Linked DNA regions of Homo sapiens. The protein of the gene in region 2 interacts with the protein of the main gene of each other region in a pairwise test. Each region holds a gene or a part of one and is shown on either strand. Other genes may lie near its edges.

Region 1 (7,464 bases), on a different chromosome or scaffold from region 2:
TTTTTGGAAAATACTTCATATTGCATCACATTAGAAGGCACTTAAGTCTGGTGCACTTTAATGATACTTTCTATTGTTTATTTTTGACTATACAAATAAACAGAGTATCTGCTCCTTTTCTTACACAAAAGGAAGTATATACAGTGTTCCTTAACTTTCTCTTTTCACTTGACGATCCATATCAGGATACAGCAAGCAGTCTCCTCAGTCCTTTTCATAGCTTCATAGCACTCCACCGATTGGATGTGTCATAGCTTATTCAAACAGATTCTTATTGATGGACATATCGGTTATTTCCAGGTTTTTTTGGCTATCATAAATAATGCTGCGATGAAACGTTATGCATATGTTATTTTGTATTTGTACAAGCCTATCTTTGGAGTAGAGTTCTAGATGTGGAATTGCTGGGTCAGAGGATAAATGCATATTTAACTTTACAAATGTAACTGGATTGCAGTGGCTCACGCCTCTCATCTAAGCACTTTGGGAGGATGAGGTAGGCGGATCACTTGAGCTCAGGAGTTTGAGACCAGCCTGGCCAACCTGGGCAATCCCGTCTCTACTAAAAATACAAAAATTAGCCGGGCGTGGTGGCGCATGCCTGTAATCCCAGCTACAAAGGCAAGAGAATCGCTTTAACCCGGGAGGTGGAGGTTGCAGTGAACCGAGATCGCGCCACTGCACTCCGGTCTGGGCGACAGAGCAAGGTTCCTTAGAAAGAAAGAGAGAAAGAGAGAGAGAGGGAAAGGGAGAGAGAAAGAAAGAAAAAGGAGGAAGGGAGGGAAGGAAGAAGGGAGGGAGGGAGGAAGGGAGGAAGGAAGGAAGAAATTCAAGATAGACAAAAGTGATCTATGATAATAGAAAGCAGAAAAGTGGTCATTTGGGAGTAGGGAGGGGGAGGGGACTGATGGAAAGGAGTACAGGAAGTGTTCTGGAGTGATTAAAATGTTCTGTATCTTGATTGAGGTGGTGGTTACATGGGTGTATACATTTATCAAAATGCATTGAACTGCATACAGATATGTGCATTTTACTTAGTGTAAACTATATGTCAATCATAATTCTCACTCCATCACTTTATTGTTACTAGTAATATTGGTATTGTATTTTTGAAATGGAGCATTTGTCCTCCTGGACTGTAGAGTCTGGTGGAGTCTATAGACCAGCAAACAGACAATTACCATACCGTGCAGTAAGTGTGAAAATAGCAAAAGTCCAGGGCACCTTGGGTGTACAGAGGCCCTTTAACTCAGATTGAGGGAAGACAGGGAAGGTTCCTGAGAGAAAGTAAAGTCTAAGTTAAGAACTGAATGATGAACGGAAGTTGTTCAAGGAACTTTCATTCGTGAGAGGGAAGAGTCAAGGATATGCCTAGTTTACCAGCTTGGTCACTGGGTGGGAGGTGGGTGGAGCCCTTCGCTAGGTTATTGAACATGGGAGGAGGAACAGGTTTGGGGGAGGGCAGGGCTAATGGTGAGTTCATTTGGAGGCATATTGAGTTGGATTTGAAGTCTAAGAGAGCTAAGGGCTAGAGATAGGGATTTTGGAGTCATCAGCATATAATTGTTCATTTAAGTATTGGGACTTTATGAGCTGGCCAGGTGAAGGAGCCATAGAAGAAGTTGAAAATTTATTAGAGAAAGAGAATTATGATTGGGAACATTTATGGGAAAAGGGGAATTGTGAGGTCAGATTGTGAGAGAAAGCTGGGCAACTGGAATTGATTATTTTCTCTCCAATTTCTTAATATAAAAAGTAGCAAACCAAAAAAAGTTGAAAAAATAGTTCAAAGAGTACCTGTGTATCTTCCACTCCAGGTTAATAATTATTAATACTACCATACTAGCTTTATGTTTGTTGGTATGTGTGTGTCTGTCTTTTTCATTTTGTTGAATTATTTGAGAGTGGGAGTGCCTTATGGAGAAAATACATGTGATAAATAAGCTTCCTTCAGCTATGAGTTATAGGGCTCTTGGCCCTGAGTTCAGTGTTAACGAATCACAATGTAAAGATGTCTTTACATAAAAACACACATAAAACAAGGTTATAGGCCGGGCGCGGTGGCTCACGCCTGTAATCCCAGCACTTTGGGAGGCCGAGACGGGGGGATCACGAGGTCAGGAGATCGAGACCATCCTGGCTAACACGGTGAAACCCCGTCTCTACTAAAAATACAAAAATTAGCCGGGCATGGTGGCGCGCGCCTGTAGTCCCAGCTACACGGGAGGCTGAGGCAGGAGAATGGCGTGAACCCGGGAGGCGGAGCTTGCAGTGAGTCGAGATCGCGCCACTGCACTCCAGCCTGGGCGACAGAGCGAAACTCCGTCTCAAAAAAAAAAAAAAAAAAAAAACAAAACAAGGTTATATGTTGATCAGTTGATGAAAACATTGTCACCAGAGGCTCACAGGAACCTAATTCTGTACTTCCCCTAGTAGGAATGGTTTAGTATTCAATAATTATTTGTTGGTGGCTACTTATAAAATCTAACTATCACAGGTACAGTAATGAGAATTAACTATATGTCTTTCTATTCGTATTTCCTATCCTTTCTTACATAAAAATTAAAAATTTCTTTGTACTTTTTGTCTTTGAAAAATATTTCACTAAATAAAGAGAACTGTGTTCAAAAATCACTTGTGATGTTATGTTACCAATTTAATATACAATTAGGTGTATTAGTTTTAGTATGCATTCAATTTTAAGCTCACCTTTTTATTTTCTATTTTTTGAATATGTAAAACATGCACATGGATTAAAAGTCTCACTGTAAAGAAAGTTTTCACTTTCATCCCTATCCCCTCACCCCTTTGTAGTTAACCATTTTTGTGGTCTCTGATTTAACCTTCCAGAGTTGTTTTGTTGTTGTTGTTGCTGTTGTTTTGAGACAGAGTCTCACTCTTGTTGCCTAGGCTGGAGTGTAATGGCCCCATCTCGGCTCACCGCAACCTCTGTCTCCCGGGTTCAGACAATTCTCCTGCCTCAGCCTCCCGAGTAGCTGGGATTACAGGCATGCGCCACCATGCCTGGCTAATTTTTTTGTATTTTTGTAGAGACGGGGTTTCTCCATGTTGGTCAGGCTGGTCTCGAACTCCTGACCTCAGATGATCCGCCCACCTCGGCCTCCCAAAGTGCTGGGATTACAGGCGTGAACCACTGCGCCCGGCTTTTTTTGTTTTTGAGACAGAGCCTTGCTTTGTTGCCCAGGCTGGAGTGGTGGCACGATCTCGGCTCACTGCACCCTCCGCCTCCGAGGCTCAAGAGATTCTCCTGCCTCAACCTCCCCAGGAGCTGGGATTACAGGCGCGCGCCACCACGCCTGGCTAATTTTTTTTTTTTTTTTTTTTTTTTGGTAGAGACGGGGTTTCACCATGTTGGCCCGGCTGTTCTCGAACTCTTGGCCTCAAGTGATCTGCCAGCATCGGCCTCCCAAAGTTCTGGGATTACAGATGTGAGCCACCGCGCCCGGGCCCAGAGGTTTTTAAAATGCAAAAACAAATACATATACTTTTGTTTCCCTTCCTTCATTAAACTTCGCTTTTTTTTAAAAAAGAAAAAAACCCGTATACGTTGGAGGTCACTTTATATTGGTACTGTGAAATCATCCTCCTGTTTTATAAGCCGCGTGTTTACTTATAAGCACTCCACGGGTTAGTCAACTCATTGGAGCAAGCGTTTTGAAGTGTGGCAGATTGACAGTCCACCTGAAATCAGAATAACTGAGTTCAAATCCTGACTACACCATTTAACTCGTCGTTTCATCTTGAGCAAGTCCTTTACCATTTTTGTGTCTCAGTTTTCTCATCTGTAAAATGAGGCTGTTGTGGAAAAGACAGTAGACAGCTCACTGGGCTGTCATGAGCAACACATGAATTCACACATTTAAAGTGCTTATGACAGTGCATGGCGCATACGAAGCCCTCAAGTTAAATAAAAATCGGGGTAGGTGGGAGCGATGGAGATTTATAACAGCTTCCGGTAAATGTCGAGGCACAGTATTTCCAGAGCTTGTGCGAAGTAGGGAACCCAACAGCTCTCATGGCCTCGAAAGAAGGGGGATCCTGTGTCCGGGAAGCTCGGCCGCAGTCCTGCAATGTCTAGGGCAGCGGTGAGAGCGCTGTGGCTGGCTCAACGCAGCCCGACACCAGGGAAGACGCTCTGGCCCTCAGTTTCCCGGCAGCAAAGGAGCGCGAGGTGGTCTCCACTTTCAGCCTACTCGGTCCGGGGTTGCGAACTGTAAGGTCTGAGTTGCTGCGGCGCAGGCAGCGGAGACCAAGCAGGGATCTTAACAGGGTTTAGCGCCACGCGGGCCAGGGCCGAGGCCGGAGCTGGGAGGGGCGCGCCCGGGAAGGGGCGGAGCTGCGGCGGTGGCGCCAAATCGCAAATATGGCGCCGGAGCGGCTGCGGAGCCGGGCGCTCTCCGCCTTCAAGTTGCGGGGCTTGCTGCTCCGTGGGTGAGTGGGCTCGGGCAGCTTGAAGGGCGAGAGGGAAGAGCTGGGGCCCGTCTGCCTGGTGCGGCAGCGGGACGCACCGCGGCGGCTCCCCGCGCGCCGAGAGGGGGCTTGACCTTAAATTTCAGAGTTCTAAGAAGCGGTCGGGCGCGGTGGCTCACGCTTGTAATCCCAGCACTTTGGGAGGTCGAGGCGGGCGGATCACGAGGTCAGGAGATCGAGACCATCCTGGCCAACATGGTGAAGCCCCGTCTCTACTAAAAATACAAAAATTAGCTGGGCGTGGTGGCGCGCGCTTGTAGTCCCAGTTAGTTGGGAGGCTGAGGCAGGAGAATCGCTTGAACCCGGGAGGAGGAGGTTGCGGTGAGCCGATATCGTGCCACTCTACTCCATCCTGGCGACAGAGAGAGACTCCATTAAAAAAAAGTTCTAAGAAGCGAGGTGGATCTTGAGGCTGCCGTGCCTTCTTTGGTTTCCCCGACCCATGCGAGGAGTTTAATGTTTCTTCTAGGCGGGCCGAGGCTCTTCTGCACATGTCAAACTGAGCCCGAGAAGCTGCAACCTATCTATGGCAGCCGGTTATCAACATTGTGACCTGGACAGCTCTCAGGCTCCCGGGAAGGTTGCTGAGACATAAGATGAGAGACCCGAGAAAGCCCACTTGCACGTCTGCAGTTGCCAATTTATGTGAAAGTCAGGTTTCCTGGGCATATCCGTGTTTTTGAGGACCTATAGAACATATGAACCTTCCCAAGATTTCTCTCATTAAATCTGCTCCGTGTTTTAGAGTTCTATATGTACGTGTGTGTGTGTGTGTGTGTGTGTGTGTGTGTGTGTGGTGTGTGTGTATATATATATATGTATTTTTTTTTTTTTGAGTCATGGTCTCACTCTCGCCCAAGCTGGAGGGCAGTGATGCGAACTTGACTTACTGCAGCCTCAACCTCCTGGGCTGAAGTAGCTGGGACTGCAGGCATGGGCCACCATACCTGGCTGATTTTTTGTTGTTGTATGTTTTTTAGAGACGGGGTCTGGCTATGTTGCCCAGGCTGGTCTTGAACTCCTGGGCTCAAGTAGTCCTCGCGCCGTGGCCTCCCAGAATGCTGGAATTACAGGCGTGAACCACTGCGCCTGACCTAGAACACAATATTTTATACATATTGAAATACCTGCTGGATTGGATATACCTCTCTGTATCAGTTTTTATTGCTTTTGTGTGTGTAGATTTTTGGTTGGTTTTGTGAGTTTTATGGGACTTTTAACTGTGCTTTGGGAGATGCCTTGGGAGAAAATAATGAATTTTGTTCAATTGGTCCTTGACATTTTGAAAGCATGAGGAACTGATGAATTAACTTTCTTTTCGCTTAGAATTTGACCTAATATTAAGCTTTTGTTCATTAATTATTTCAGTCATAAGTATACTTAAATCTGTTAGCTGCAAAGCACCGTGCTGGGGTAAGGGGGTGCAATAGAGAGCAAGAGCTTTGTAGGGGGCAGATAATGTATTCTATTGCTGCGTGACAAATTACCCCACAATTTAAAGGCTAAAACAGTACACATTATCTCAAATTTTCTGTGGGTTAGGAATTCAGGTGTGGCTTAGTTGGGTCCTCAACTTCAGGGTCTTTTCACAAGGTTGCAGTCAAGATGGATCATCTCAAATGTTGTCCAGACAGCATTCGCTTCAAGCTCATTCAGTTGTTGGCAGGATTCAGTTCCTGATTGCCTGGCAGGCTGTTGGCTGGAGGCTATCCTCAGTCCCTTGCCATGTGTGCCCCCAACATGGCTTCATCAAGAGAGAGAGTCTTCTAGTAACTCTGAGGCAACCTAATCAAGGAGGTGACATCTTGTTATTTTTAAATTTTTTTTACTTTTAAATTTTACTTTCAAAATTATAATACAGTAAGTTATTCTATCCCTTTTGCTATATTCTATTTTTAGAAACAAGTTACTAGGTCCAGCCCACACTTAAGGGCAGGGGATTACATAGGTGTAACTACCAGGAGTAATGGATTATTAGGGGCCATCTTAGAAGTCTGTCTACCATGGATATTAAATGACTATTTTACAGCTATTTAATCTCAATTGTGAAAGGGATTCCAGGAAAGAAGGGCTATGAGAGTTTATGATAAGGTGTATAAACTGCCCTAGAGTCAAGGAAGAACTTCACTGCAGAAGTGGTTTGGGCTGACTTAAAGAATGAGCAGGACTTGGCTGGGCGCAGTGGCTCACGCCTGTAATCCCAGCACTTTGGGAGGCTGAGGTGGGCGGATCACGAGGTCAGGAATTCGAGACCGGCCTGACCAACATGATGAAACCCTGTCTCTACTAAAAATACAAAAAAAAAAACCAACCAGCCAGACGTGGTGATGTGCACCTGTAACCCCAGCTACTCAGGAGGCTGAGGCAAGAGAATCGCTTGAACCCGGGAGGTGAAGGTTGCAGTGAGCCAAGATTACGCCACTGCACTTCAGCCTGGGTAAGAGAGCGAGACTCCATCTCAAAAAAGAAAGAAAGAAAAAAAAGAAAGAACAGGACCTGACTAGGTGGAGAGAAGAGTGGGAGGAAATGGCCATATAAAGACCCTAAAGCAGGAGAGTGCCAGGAAGGCCAGGGACATGGTATGAGCTTAATGGGATTTGGCAGGGGCAAGATTCTGTATGGCTTTACAGGCTTTGGTCTATGCTAAGAACTGTCCCAAGATGCAACCAAAATGTATATGATTTTAGGGACTCAGTGGTCAAATATTTATGGACCACCTTCAAGTGTATTTAGAACTCTGTGGAAGGATGGCACAGAGTTCTAAGTTACAGTTTTAAAGTTATCTATAATTCAGTTCTCAGTTATCTATAATAAATTTGAGAGATGCAACACCTACACACAAAACAACTAATAAAGCAACCCAATATATAGAACAATTAGTGTTATGGCTATAACAATAATATGTGAAATGTTAAATTGTGTGCTACAAATACAGAATGGCATGTAATTAGCTAATTGTTTAATATTGTAATC
Region 2 (7,112 bases):
AAGTAAGAAAAAGGAGAGAAAGCCATATATAACTAACATAATTAAGAAGATGGAGATTGGAATTAAAATGGAAAAGAATACTGACAATACTGCATAGCAAGAAAAATGAGTGAGAAGCAAGAAATTAACCAGGAGAATGAGAAGGAATGAAGAAAATTCACAGAAGAGAAAGCCTTATTTGTATGATTCAGAGTTGTTTCAGAATTACCTGAGAAGAATTAGATGTAGTAACAACAGTTGAGACAACTGAATACAGAACCAATTAATGTAGTTTCTAAACTTAAACAAAGGATTTCAATTATTACTAAAGAACAAACTATGTGTCTGTCTTGGGGAATGTGTAGAGTATCCAGATATTAAGGTGAACTTGTGAAATCAGGGATATGGAAATGAAAATACTGCAGAAGAATTACAAAATGAGTCACAAGAAGGTTGTCAAGGAGATGCTCAAATGAACTCAATTCACTAAAGCACAGGGAATAACGAAGTGATATCAGGAACAAACATGACTGGAATACAGAGACCCAAGAGTAATAAAGTAAAAACCCAAAAAGAATACCGGAAAATCTTATAGACAAAAAAAAAATGTAATATTTCTTCTCTCTCCAAACCAACTCTTCTACCAAAAACTTTAAAAAAATTTCCTTGAGTTACTTTGTTTTCTTCCAAGCCTTTACACCACAAAATGTGGAACAGAAGTACACTGAGACCCAAGCAACGAAAAAGAGATGATATTGAACACAGTTATCCAGCCCATCTTCTCCCCCTAGGAAGCCTTTAATGGTTTTATTCACTACTGAGAGAAGGAAGAGAGCTCCAGAAAAGAAAGAAAATAAACAAAATTTCAGATTTATTTTAACTTCATGTTTTTGTCATATCTTATTGTTTTGGGAGGTTTCCTTATATACACGTAGATAAACTGGACCCAACCAAAATATTATTTTACTTTAAATGGCTATGTTCATGAAAACAGCTCACAATCAGTAAGATGCGATTTTTGTTCCCCATGACATGTGAGATTATGTACACTGGCTTTGAAAACACAAAAGTAGCATAACTGTTTTGCTTAATTTCAATGAACTATTCCTATATGCTGAAAAGCTTAGTCCAAATGTATTTATTTATTTATTTGTTTGTTTATTTATTTATTTTTGAGACAGAGTCTTGCTCTCTCACCCAGGGTGGAGTGCAACGGCACGATCTTGGCTCACTGCAACCTCCGCCTCCCAGCTTCAAGCGATTCTCCTGCCTCAGCCTCCCAAGTGGCAGGGATTACAGGCACCCATCACCACATCCAGGTAATTTTTGTAACTTTAAAAGAGACAGGGTTTTGCCATGTTGGCCAGGCTTGTCTCGAACTCCTGACCTTAGGTGATCCACCCACCTTGGCCTCCCAAAATGCTGGGATCACAGGCGTGAGCCACCGTGCCCGGCCCAAATTTAATTTTATCTAAATCGTTTCATTTTGAATCCAAGGGGCAAGAACTACAGCCATTTCTTCACAGTTCAGAGTTGAGACCACTGTTTTAGAGCCACACAGATTTATGCAGAATTCTGGAGCTGCCTCTTAGTACCCATGTGCCTTAGCCAAGCTAATTAATGTCTTTCATCCTCTGCATCCTAATCCATATATGGGATGATTATGTCCAACCTCATAGGGTTCCTGTAAGTTTCAAAGATGTATGTTGAGTGTCCAGCACAAAATAAATACTTAACTATGGAAAGTTGAAACATACCAATAAAGGAGTAGCTTAACTAAAAGTGTCTATATCAAGAGAAGCTGTGTTTTTAAAATTTTGTAATCCTAGAAAAACAGTTTTACAAGAAATTCCATAGGTCACCAATAAAGTTGTGTAATAATTTCAAGTCAATGATAAAACACAATGGACATCAACAGGCTCAGAATATGCATCAAGTCAATTCTTTTTTAAAAATTACTACAAAAGCATTGTTGCTTTAAATACTTTAGAAGATGCAAGTTGTTATTTGGGAAGCAAACTTCTTGAAAGTATTTAATGGTGAAGTAAACACTTGCTTTGGAAATATATATTTTGGCTGTTAAGATCCCATGGACTTCCAATATTAGCTGAAATACATTTGTAGGTGGAAAATGTTTGTGATTTACATGACTTACATTTGATTGGCCCTTGGAGGAAAATAATACAATCACAACAAACACAACAGAACAACTTTACCAAGATGTCCAAATGCAGAGAAGTGAGTGCAAGCTGCTTTGGTTTTGTTGATGCCATCACAAATAAATAAGAATGGAAGAATGTAATGGCTCCTACTTCTGCAAATTCTTTGAATCTGGCCACTCAAAGGAATTTGTCCTTACCTGCCTGCTTTGGTGATGATCATTTCAGTTCCAATATCATGGAACCGCTTCCAGAGGTCAGCACATTGCAGCTCCACCTGAATCTCCTCCATGGAAGACATGGCAGCAGGCACAGGGCCTGCAGCACCAGAGGCCAGGTCAGTGTGAGTACTGAAGGAGCAGGAAGTCCGCTCAGTGAGGACCTCAGAATCTGAACCAGTGCTCTGCTCAGAATCTGCAAAATAAACAATCAAGCCTTAGGTGAGAAACTGCTGAGCTCCCCTCACCCATGGCCCTAAAAGATGGGGGTGGGAAATGCAATGAAGTGGGGAGAGGGGTAAACAAAAGGAGACTTAAAGCTGGGAAGCTCCAGAGCACAGCACTCAGGGTATTTTATTATTTTTTATGGTTTGTTTTTGTGATTTATGACCTTCTTTCAGGTTTCGTGTTTCCAACATGACATCTGGCATTTTAGTAAGTTTTAGCAACAGCTGAAGAAAATTGGTCCACAACAGGCAATATAAATAGTACTAATGTCACCATGTTGAAGAGAATGAGGCCAAACTGGGGCAACAAAATAAATGCCATATTAAACTAAAATAATTATAAATTACAGGTCCAAACCTAGATTAGACTATTACATTTGTGCAAGTAAAGATTCAGTGCAAACATTATGTTCTTCAATTCCATACCACTCAGCATCACTGCCTGTCAGTTATTTTTAAACACAGAAATTTTTCCTCTACTTACATAAGCCATGGCCATCAAAAGTAATGAAAAGCTGCTTGGGATCTTTAGAAGTACTTTGTCATATATTTGAGTAAATGGTTTTTCCTAAGAGTCTAATCAGGCCATTTTGGATGGGAAAAAAACCTCTGTTGTGAGTCAAGGATGTAAGCATATGGAAAAAGTTACCCAAAAAGGCAGTTGAAACAAAGGGAATAAATGAGTTCAGGAGACACCTTGATTGGTTTCTGAAGTATGGGCAGAGGGGAGGGGTGATCCAAACAGGAAGGTGGGATTGAGAGCAACCAAATAAAAAGTTGGCATGCTGGTCCAGATGGTCCTTTCCTGTGTCTTCTGTACTCATGAAGACAAGTGGGGCTGGGGGGCAGGGGAAGCTGACTGATGGAGAAGGCTAGAGCCAGATTTACCCGGGAAGATTTACTGGAATTTTAAATATTTACCTTTAGGAGCTTAATGCCAAGAATTGTGTGTCCTAACATTTTTCAAATTCAGATTATCTAGTATAATTTTCTTAGGTCAAATGATGCTGCAAGTCAAGCCTAAGAATCCATTTCTCTAACCCACCCTTAACATCTAGAATTCTGATTGCTTTCCTTGGAGTTAAATATATTCATGAGTAAAGGCTGGAAACAAGTGTTGTACTCTGATGAGTGACTTTTCAATGGTGTCAAGGGTCAGAGCTTCTTGAGCATCAATCCTTGACACTAGTAAGATGGAAAAGAATGGGACAGAATGCCCAATCACGTTGCTGCCAACCTCACTTACCTGCAGCAGGTTTGCAGACCTGTGAAAGATACACCCCATTGTTCCTTTACTTTTCTTTCCTTTTGTCACTGACTTTTTTCTCTTGCAACCCCAGGCAGCATCTCTGGCAAGAATATCTAACAGCTGTGTCAAAGCCACAGGGAATAAAGTGCCCACAGGGGAAAAAGTGTCATTTCTCTCCATCTCCCTAATTCCTCACCTGTCACTTGTGAAGATATTCAGGTTGTTAAAGAACCAAATCAAACTTCTAAATAAAGGGGAAGTTTCTGACCAAAAACTTCAGTTTACCCATAATCACTACATGAAGATGTAGTCACTATCTTCATTCTCCCTCCCCCTCTGCCCCCCACCCACAAAAAAAAAAAACTATAAAGTTTTATAACTAGGTTTTACATGTCTAAGCACATAATTTTATACCTAGGACTAAGTAGCAGCTATTTTTGGTCTTCTCCAAGCACTGAAAAGTAGAACTACTTATCTAAGATGACAGCTGTTGCTGAGTGACAAATCTATATCCTAGCCTGATTCTATAGGCCTTTCAGTAGCAGAGCCATTATATCATCACACACTCAGCCAAACACACTAATTCATGTCCCCTGAGACATGGATTCCCAAATCCTATTTTGTGTCTGGGATATTTTAAGAGCTCCTCACTTATCATGAATACTGTAAATTTTTCAAAAAACCTCCTCAGAAAAAGATTTTTAAAATATATTATTGTCCTGCTTTTGGAAGCAAAAAGTTACAAAATTCACCATAAAGTGCCACAATTACAAAAAATTGGAAAGAGACACCTTAAGTAGGACCCAACAGAAATTTTGGACATATGATTTCTCCAATGTATGTTTAGGAACTGGAAAAGGGAAGGAAAGGTATCACTACACTAAGAGATAAGTATTAATGGTAGCTAAATTGAGGCTGAGATTGGAATTGGGACTACGGCTAGAGAATTATGAAATAAGAGACTCTACCCTTAACTCAGTATGTCATCTGGAACAAAACAGGGACTCAAAATGTAACATCAAATGAATTAATGAATAACCTTAGACAAGCCATTTAACCACAGGGGGGGCCTAGGTCCTCAATGTGCAATGAAAAAGAATGAACTTAAGGATTACACCTCTAATGACCTGAATGTAAGAATCCTCCCCAGTGCAAGTGCTAACCCAGGTAACCTCAATTAGAAACATCAAATTTAAAACTCTTTGAACAAGACAAGTTAAATAAGGGAAAAGACCGGGGGCTCAGATTCACATTACCATAGGAGTTAAATAATTGAGTGGGTATTCTATAAGGGTTTATAGTTTCAATCAAATCAATCAATAAGCACCTATCAGCATATGGCCTTAGATGAAGTACCATGCAGATAATTAGAAACAGAATCCAAGACCTTAAGAAATTTCCCAGTTAGTGTTGATTAATTATGTGTTTATTGAGTGCTTACTATGTGCCCAGCACTGTGCTAGATTCTGGGAAATAACAAAGTACACAATGGGACCTCTCTTCAAGTACAGTACAGTGGAGACTATGAGCATTCAAAAATAATCAGAGAGCAACACAAATAACTGCCACACAGTTTTCCACACCATTACATACTGTCTCAGATGTCTCTTAGAAGTCCAGAAGAGAAAGAGATCCAAGAGGGCTAGAACACTCCTGGGGAACCCATTGTTACTAGAAAGGAAATGGGCAAGTCTGTGGAGGCATAGGCAGTATTTGTCCATGAAGAGGATTTTCAAAGACATTTATTTAACTGGAAATACCCTGAACTTCTAGATTTTCACTCTCTCACAAAACAGGATCCAGTGACTTTTATATAAAGAATGTAAGCAACAGCCCACATGTTCAATAACATGAATGCATATGCAATCTTCTATTCTCAATTGTTTCTTAAATATTATAATCTTGAAATAAAGTTACTGTTACTTTTATAGATGCTCTTTTTAAAAAGCTTCTAGAAGGGTTAGGGCCACCCGTGGGGTAAGCAACCCTACAAAACCCTTAAAATAGTAATCTCAGAGTCAAGATTAACAGCCTAGGTAAAAATAAAATTTAATCTTTTGTAAAATACATTTCTAAATCATAGTTATAGAAAATATTTTGGCTAACCAGATCAAAATTTTTAGCTATTAATTAGGATGTATAATAAAGTTATCTAAGTCATGGAAGAAACACACAGCTGGTTATTTTAATCAAATCAGATCATCCATTTAGAAATATAATCAGTCAGTCCCTTAAAGATCAAAAAACACCTCTGTGTTTTCAAGGTCATTTATTCTTGGCAATTTGTGACTTCCTGTCCTCAAAAAATAGCCATTAGGAACTCATATGAATGATGCAGGATTTCTTGGCTATCAGATACTGTCAGAATAGTATTTCAACAGAAGAAGTTTAAGTAAATCAGGAACATAAAATGTTACATGTAACCAAGGCAGCTAAAGGAGAAAACTTAAGTAACCTGCGCTGAGCCAGTTACAAGTCACTAGAGAACATTTTGTGACTCACAGGGCCAAAGCAACATATCTATTCTCATCCCCCCAAAAAAATCCTTTAAAAAGATATTTTAACCATCATTTTACTTTCTATCTCTGACCTATTTCACTTTGATAAAATGAATGCTGTAACACTAAGTTCCCACAGAAAGTTGAGTTTAGCTTAAAGTACGTTCACTTCTCACTCTAGCAATAATAATAAAAGAACTTTTAATTTATGTTTTACACATTACCTAATATTGTCTTCCCATTGATAAGATAGACATAGCTTGTATTTTTATGTCTATTTTGTGGACAAGGACACTGAAACAAGAGAAATTGAAAACTAACATGTACTAGAATGCACATCTTCTCCATCCTGATCCAATGGTCAGATCTCCCCAAAAGCACACTAGGTTCAACCCAGCCAAAACAGCTGGCAACTCTGTAACACCCCCTAACTATTTTAACCATCCTCACAACTAAGGTGGCTTAAATATGTTTGATCTTGGCCAAGTCACATGACTATTCTGGTCCCCAATTTCCTTAATCCTTATGGCACAGCACATGCACATTTAATTGGAAGTGTATAAGGTCCCTTTTAACTTGAATGTCTAATGGGTGGATTAGTAGTACAGCTTAGAGACCACCAAGTCTAACAAAAGCGAACCAACTACAATAGGTTCATTTGGTTACCATACATAGAAAATGCCTAAATTGCATACACTTTTAGTCTAATAAAAACTTAATATCCAAATTAGACATTTTAAAAGCATATTTTACAGTCTTGGCATCTCCACTTAACAGTTAAT
Region 3 (7,112 bases), on a different chromosome or scaffold from region 2:
AGGATTTGAAGGCCATGAATCCTGATACAAACGTCAAATAGTATTCTTATCAATAGTAGCAATCATAAAATATCAATTTTAAAATCGATATTTTAAAATCCATTAAACTATTGTATTTAAACTATAGAATTTCAATTGATTTAAGATTTCACAGTTTTCTAAATGCTTCATAATATTGTGTTACTTTTCCTACCAATTTTTCAATGGTTGGATAGAAATAAACTAACCTAAAAATTATATTTTTCAATATGCAATGGGAAATAGTAAGCAAAAGCTGCCCCTGCATTAAAATATCTGTCATCAGTTTATTTTAGAAAAAGAATTCTCTCATTGTATGTATTCTTTATATTCTTTTTATTTCATATATGTAATATATCTATATTTACATAAATATGTATACTGAAATATTCCTTTTTGATATAGCAAATATATATGGTTCTTTAAAATATTTATACTGATTCCTCTAATTAAATAAAATTTTTTGTAATGATTATATACTTTCTTTTTTCTTTTTATCTCTCTCGATTCTTTTACTAATTAAATAAATTTGCTAGAAAACTATCAAACAAATAAAATGAAAAAAGCTTCTATCTACCCATAGGCAGGACACAAGAATGTCTACCGTTGCCACTTGCAATTTTTTTTCAGATAAAGTTAGGTTAATTTTCACAGATTATAATGAACCAATTTAAATATTTACGTTTACAACACACACAAGCACACACACACTCACATACACAGACATAGCCTCACAATCAACAGTACTGGTTAAAATAAGAATCTCAAAGTATCCAAATGGCCTGATAACTCACTAATGTGCCAAGGTTGAATTTGCATACTTGTTTTTAACATTAAGTGCGATCATGAGGAAAACAGAAATACAGCATTTAAACAGCAATGGATTCAAATGCTGCCTTTCATCCCATCTTAATTTCATTCTCCATAGACTCTGGTGCCTCAACTACTTTCTAATGTCTGTGTTCTGTTGACTGTAAATCAATTTATTGCTTTTTTTAATTTTTATTTTTTGAGATGGACTTTTGCTCTTGTTGCCCAGGCTGGAGTGCAATGGTGTGATCTTGGCTCACTGCAACCTCCGCCTCCCAGGTTCAAGTGATTCTCCTGCCTCAGCCTCCCTAGAAGCTGGGATTACAGGTGCCTGCCACGATGCCCAGCTAATTTTTTGTATTTTTCGTAGAGACGGGGTTTCACTATGTTGGCCAGGCTGCTCTCAAACTCCTGACCTCAGGTGATTTACCCGCCTCAGCCTCCCAAAGTGCTGGGATTACAGGCATGAGCCACTGCGTCCAGCTCTGCTTTTTTTTTTTTTTTAACTAAGTATTTTGCTCATAAGCACTTCTGCCACATTCTGTATTCACTTGGTGTTTGCTCCTTCAGTGAAATTTTCCTGGTGTTACATTCTTTCTTGGGAATAATATATAAAATTCAAAACATCGAGACTAAATATCAAATCATCAGAACCAAGATTTCCTGATTGAAGGTCACAATGTAATCTAATTGGTATTTTTCTCAAAATGCACAATCACTTCCTAAAAATATCCAGATTTCTCAGAAATATTTATGTTTTTCTTCGAAGACCCTGCAGAAATTTTAACAAAAATAAAGTCATCTAAAGGGATTTTAAAGACTACAAGTTGTTGTTTTTCTTAAATGCACATTTATGTCTCTTCACCACTACATAGTTATGACAATTTTTCCCTCGGTAAAATGACTCTGGAGTAAGATGAAACAATAAATGGGTTAATAGTTATAAAGTTAAAGCTAACTCACAAAGAGGTTAAAGTATCAATGTGGAGAGTTCGCTTGGGCAGTACAGACCATATCCAACCACCACACTGCTTGCCATTAGGCACAACAGCAACAAATTTTTCAGCAGGAATGTGCAGGGGAAGGATTTGTCTGACAAGAGAAAGACTTCCATGTCAGGAGCCAAATACCACTAACTCCCCAAGGCTTAAGCCTACAAAATGCCAAATGATTACCGTGCATATGTGGAAACTTTTTTTCCTAGGGAAACAAAAGTATTTTAATGAATCACTGGAGTCTTTGGATATTTAGAAACAGATTTAAAAATAAAATCTACTGGCTATCTTTTTAAAATACAATGATTCTTTCATATTCAAAAACATGATTGGAGCTATAAGAAGAAATCACTATCCCAGGGTAAATATTTCAAAATCATAGAGGACATAAAAGCAGCACATTACTCTGTGACCATATATATTTTTTTTCTTTTGAGACAGGTTCTCGCTCTCATTTGCACTCATTGCACTCATTGCCCAGGCTGGAGTGCAATGGCGTGACCACGGCTCACTGCAGCCTCCACCTCTCAGGCTCAAATGATTATCTCACTTCAACTGGGACTACAGGTGTGTGCCACCATGCTGGCCTTATTTTTTATTCTAATTTTTTTGTAGTGACAGGATCTCACTATGTTGCCAGGGTTGGTCTCCAACTCCCGGCCTTAAGTGATCCTCCTGCCTCAGCCTCCCAGAAGTGTTGGGATTACAGGCATGAGCCACCGTGCCTGGCCACATATTTCCTAATTTACTTGGATAACAGATTTTGGTTCTTAGTCTATTTGGAGAAGGATAGGTCAAGTTATATGAGGTTGGGTCAAGTTAAGGAACATATATCACAAATCTTTTGTATATTTCATTTCACATAACTGTCCTCTCACATACACATATTTTGTCAGAATAAGTATTCCCAAGTAATAAGTTAATATGCAAATTACTGGGTCAGGATGGCCTAACTATAATGGTAAGTGGCAGAGATGGGATTAGAACCTATTTCTGTCTGTTTACAAAGCATGTACCCAGAAAATAGACTAAAGAAAATGTGTCTCTACGATATTTATTTTAACTGAATAAACAGACAAACAGAAAACATCAGTCAGCATGGCATCACATGCTAACTAGGACAGTCTAAAATTCATGACATTAAAAAGTTAGAGATTAAACAATGTCATGCTTTTAAAAACATATATAATTCTAGGTGAAATTGAACTTCTATGTCTAAGAACATATTATCTCCTTGACAAATCAGATACATAAAACAATTGTCTACAATTTTTCTGAAAATCTTATTTTGGAAATTTGACCAGTCAGTCTGTGAGACAAAATCACACCTCAGGATTCTGTGTTTGTTTCTCTGTTTTTGTTAACAGTAGGGAGGAGCCAACCGAAAATAATATAACTTAACAGGATGAGTTACTTTTGAGTGCATTTGCCTCTAAATGATTCTTGACATTATCAAAAAATCAAACCTAACCCCTCCAAGGAAGAAAAATTGCCAGTTTTGATGATGTTCAAAAAAATGTGCCACAGGCTTAGAGGCGATTTCAAAATTTACATTCCCAAAATGTTTTAAGCAATGATCATATCATGAGGGTATGTGTTCTCTCTCAAACCAACTACTTTGAAGGAGACAACAGTTTCCAACATATAAATTTCTAGTTAGTTTGTATAATTCTATTACTAGACTTAGGGTATAATTTCATTTTTAAGGTAATTTATCCATTATTCATTAATTTATCTAGTTGTCAATTAATACCTACCTTGTGTCAGAAATTATGCAAAGACTTGGAGTCACAAAGATGAAAGTCATAGCCTGTTCCTAAACTCAAACTTCTCATAGTTAATTGGAAGAGTATAGTAAGGGCAATAATAAATAAAGAGAGCCTCATGGTTTATTTATATGGCTGATGGCATTATAATCTCTAAGTGGCTAATATTCCAAAATTTAAAAGTAAGAAAATTCAAAAGATAACATAGGTTAATTACTAACTGTTTTCTTGTTTCTAAAGCAGCACAGATGGGAAGGGAATTCAATAAAAAAGAACTGAAATGGGAAAGAAGATTTGACCGAAACTATTTCCATGAGTCTGAGCAAGCCACTGAAGCTTCTGGCCCTTAGCTTCCTCTTTTGAAAACAAGAAACTTTGATTTGATTGTCTCAGAGGTCTCTCATCCAACTCTATATCTTAATAAGCAACATGCTGGAGCTCTAGACAAATTCACACTTAATTTTCTTTCTTACATTGGCTGCCTCTTCTGATATTTAGCCAAAAAAACCCTACAGATCATTGAAGAACAATTTATTTTCAGACATGGGTCATCTAGCCCAATTCCTAGGAATTAGTTATGGCACTTCGTTTATCTGTCTTCATATTAACAAGAAAGGATAGACTTTTAGAGTCCCCCTACTGCATCCTCCAATGACAAGTGTTTTGGCATACTGAAATCATTTGGTTTTAAGGAGAAATGACACCTGTTGAATTTAAGTCATTCTTCTTTTCTTCTTCAACTAAAGAAGGAGACAAGTGAAAAATGGTTCAGTTACCCTAGTTCAGACCACACTTGTAAATTACTGGCGTAAATCTGGTATCCACTGAACTATCAGTAAATATGGATTTATGAGTTGTTCTAGCAGCAGCTGTTTGGGTCTAATGGTTCAAGGCAGTCTTAGGTCTTCCTAAATGAGTAGTCAGAGCAGAAAACCAGCTGCTTAAAGAGATGTGTTTTGAAAGGTTCAGAGCAGAGCTTAGCTCAAAAGTTTTGCTTTCACTGTCCCTGACAGAGCCTCAAATTCAACTCTTAGAGAGCTTTTGCTTCTTGAATAAAAATGTTTTCTTGGAGGTAATACCCTAACATATTATCTATTACAAGATATATTAGTTTTCAGATTTTTAAAAAGTTAGTTGGACACAGAGCCTATGGAAGTGAGAACCAAGCTAAGCACCCAGGTCTTAGAATGACAGTCACCTAGCTTACAAGTTTGCTTTAAGATCTGCCTTAGGCATCATAAGCATAATAGTTTTATTCCCATTGAAAATTCCCTTTGCACAGATAGATATGACAAATATATATATATATACACACACACACGTATACACACACACACATATATACACACACGCACATAGCCCAGCTTCTTCTTCAGTAACCTGAAGAAACAGTGCATAGGAGAACAAGACTTTCCACTCTAAACACCTCTTTTACCATCTTATAGGTCACCTCCTTGCCATCTCCGGCTTTGTGAGATGTGAAATTTTACTAAGGGCTAGATAAGGTAGAACTTCCTTGCATTTAGCCAGAATACCCTTTACATAAATTTCCACAGTGTCACCTTGTCCTGGCATTTTGTTTCTTGGTGAACACATCCTCACTATGCATGATTTTATGGTTCTCAATCTTGCCCTTACCATCATCATTGTAATCTCGATTCTGGTTGACTGCCAGAGATAAGAGTTCAATTATTTTAACATTTAATTTTTCCTCCAGCTTTGAATTTTCTGGCTGGGAAGTTATAGGGAGCATGAAGCTGTGGGGCACTTTAAGTCTCGAAGTCTCTACAGTGAAGTTAATTTGTGTAGTGTGAAGTTATAGGGGCTGTTCTTTCTCAAAGAAGTCCTGTATAAATTTTTATAAATCTACTTAAGTCCTTACTTACAGTTGCAAGAAAAATAGATCCTCTGCCTCAAATAAGTTGTCTGTGAATTGAAACTACTTTGGTTATAACTGTATTCTTTTCTCTTAATGAATCTAAACTTATGTTGGAATAGCAATAATAGATGAGACACTTAACTGCTAATACCACTTCCTGTATTTTATTTTAGATAAATAAATATTCATTTGCTAACTGGATATACTGTTTCATCAACAAGGGTGCAACATGGATAGCATAAGTCATTAGCATAATCCAAATGCTTGCTAACGGCCTTTGGAATGCCTAAACTTAAAAAAGTACACTACCAAGGACTTGGAAAGAATCTCGCACTCCAACGCCAAAGAATCTATTGCATATTAATCTTCATTAGAAAAAAAATTGATTGGGGACCTAAAGACAAAAATAAGCCTATTGTGCAATAGCAAAACATTAAAAAAATTTAAAAAGCTTTAGGAAATTTCATGTCATTGTACAAAGATGCTACACCGGAGAAAGGGGGATCTGGTGATCCTAATTTTGTCACCAGCTTTGAAATCTTTAGCTAGGCATTTCAGCCCTATAAAAATCCATTTTCTCACTTGTAAAAAGAAGAGTTGAAGTTATGTTTTTCCAGGGCTTTTTTCTCTGACAAACCGAATTGCAGAACAATTTTATGACTCAACCAACGTAGCAGAGTCCAGAGAGAGTTTGAAAAAACACCTTACAAAACTTATAACTGAAGTTCTCCCTCCAAGGGCACTTAATTTTTTCAAGTGAAAGCATGCATGCAGATTCATCCAGCTGTTACCCTGGAAGAGGACAGAGTAAATATACTCCATTTTATATGAAGCCCAAAGTGTGATTGTTAAAAATCCCCATGCACAATTAGAAAACCAGTGACTGTTCTCTGTCTCATCTATAAACTGCATAATTCTGAAACCTTTGACAGCATGTGCTGAGAGACTGAGTCAAGGGTTCTCCTGAGGAGTTGTTAGAGACTGACATATTAAAGCCAGAAAGAGATGGTGGGCATGCGAAACAGGTCACCCAGCATCCCTCAGTAATTTTGGCTCTATAAACCCCACTGTAGGATTTATACCCAGCCATGCAATTTCTAGTAATTAATGTCAGGGACAATAAAATGTATACTTTGCACATATTTTAGCTTACTTTGACTTTTTAGCCCACTGTATACCTAAGTAACACACTGCAGTGCAAGCTAATATATATATACAGTTAACTAGGTTTTTAAAATGACATTCACTTATTACCCACCTACAACATGCAATATGTTCAACAAAAACCTAAACTTAAATTTCAGGTGCACATTTGTGCTTATCGGAAAACAGGTGAGAGTACACATGCCTGGATAATGAAGTTCTGTTATTTCCAAAATAATTCTCAATGTTATATGATCATTTGTTAAGAGGAAAAATATACCTGTGTTTAAAATCCATCATAAGGAATCATTTTGATACAGTAATTAATAAGGACTTCAGAGCCATACAGTTTGAGGGGGAAATTAGTTGACAGATACACTACTACAATTGAATACAGAAGTAATATAAAACTTTAATGCTGTCTTTTCTAGCATTTTTTAAATGGCTATTAAAATTTCTTGATTGCTGTTACTTTTCTTCGCTCCTTTTCCATTTTTTCCT

What was found.
Region 1: the proteins of TBX15 (region 2) and POLE2 interact in binary tests that used the Homo sapiens proteins (3 or more experiments, as listed by UniProt).
Region 3: the proteins of TBX15 (region 2) and VGLL3 interact in binary tests that used the Homo sapiens proteins (3 or more experiments, as listed by UniProt).

Annotation. Positions count from the first base shown.
Region 1 is NC_000014.9:49,685,124-49,692,587, reverse strand, and holds the start of POLE2 (DNA polymerase epsilon subunit 2), read left to right. Parts: upstream 1-4,373; 5' UTR 4,374-4,384; coding exon 4,385-4,452; intron 4,453-7,464. UniProt on the Homo sapiens protein: Accessory component of the DNA polymerase epsilon complex. Participates in DNA repair and in chromosomal DNA replication.
Region 2 is NC_000001.11:118,929,281-118,936,392, forward strand, and holds part of TBX15 (T-box transcription factor TBX15), read right to left. Parts: intron 2,553-7,112; coding exon 2,339-2,552; intron 1-2,338. UniProt on the Homo sapiens protein: Probable transcriptional regulator involved in the development of the skeleton of the limb, vertebral column and head. Acts by controlling the number of mesenchymal precursor cells and chondrocytes.
Region 3 is NC_000003.12:86,981,133-86,988,244, forward strand, and holds part of VGLL3 (transcription cofactor vestigial-like protein 3), read right to left. Parts: intron 1-7,112. UniProt on the Homo sapiens protein: May act as a specific coactivator for the mammalian TEFs.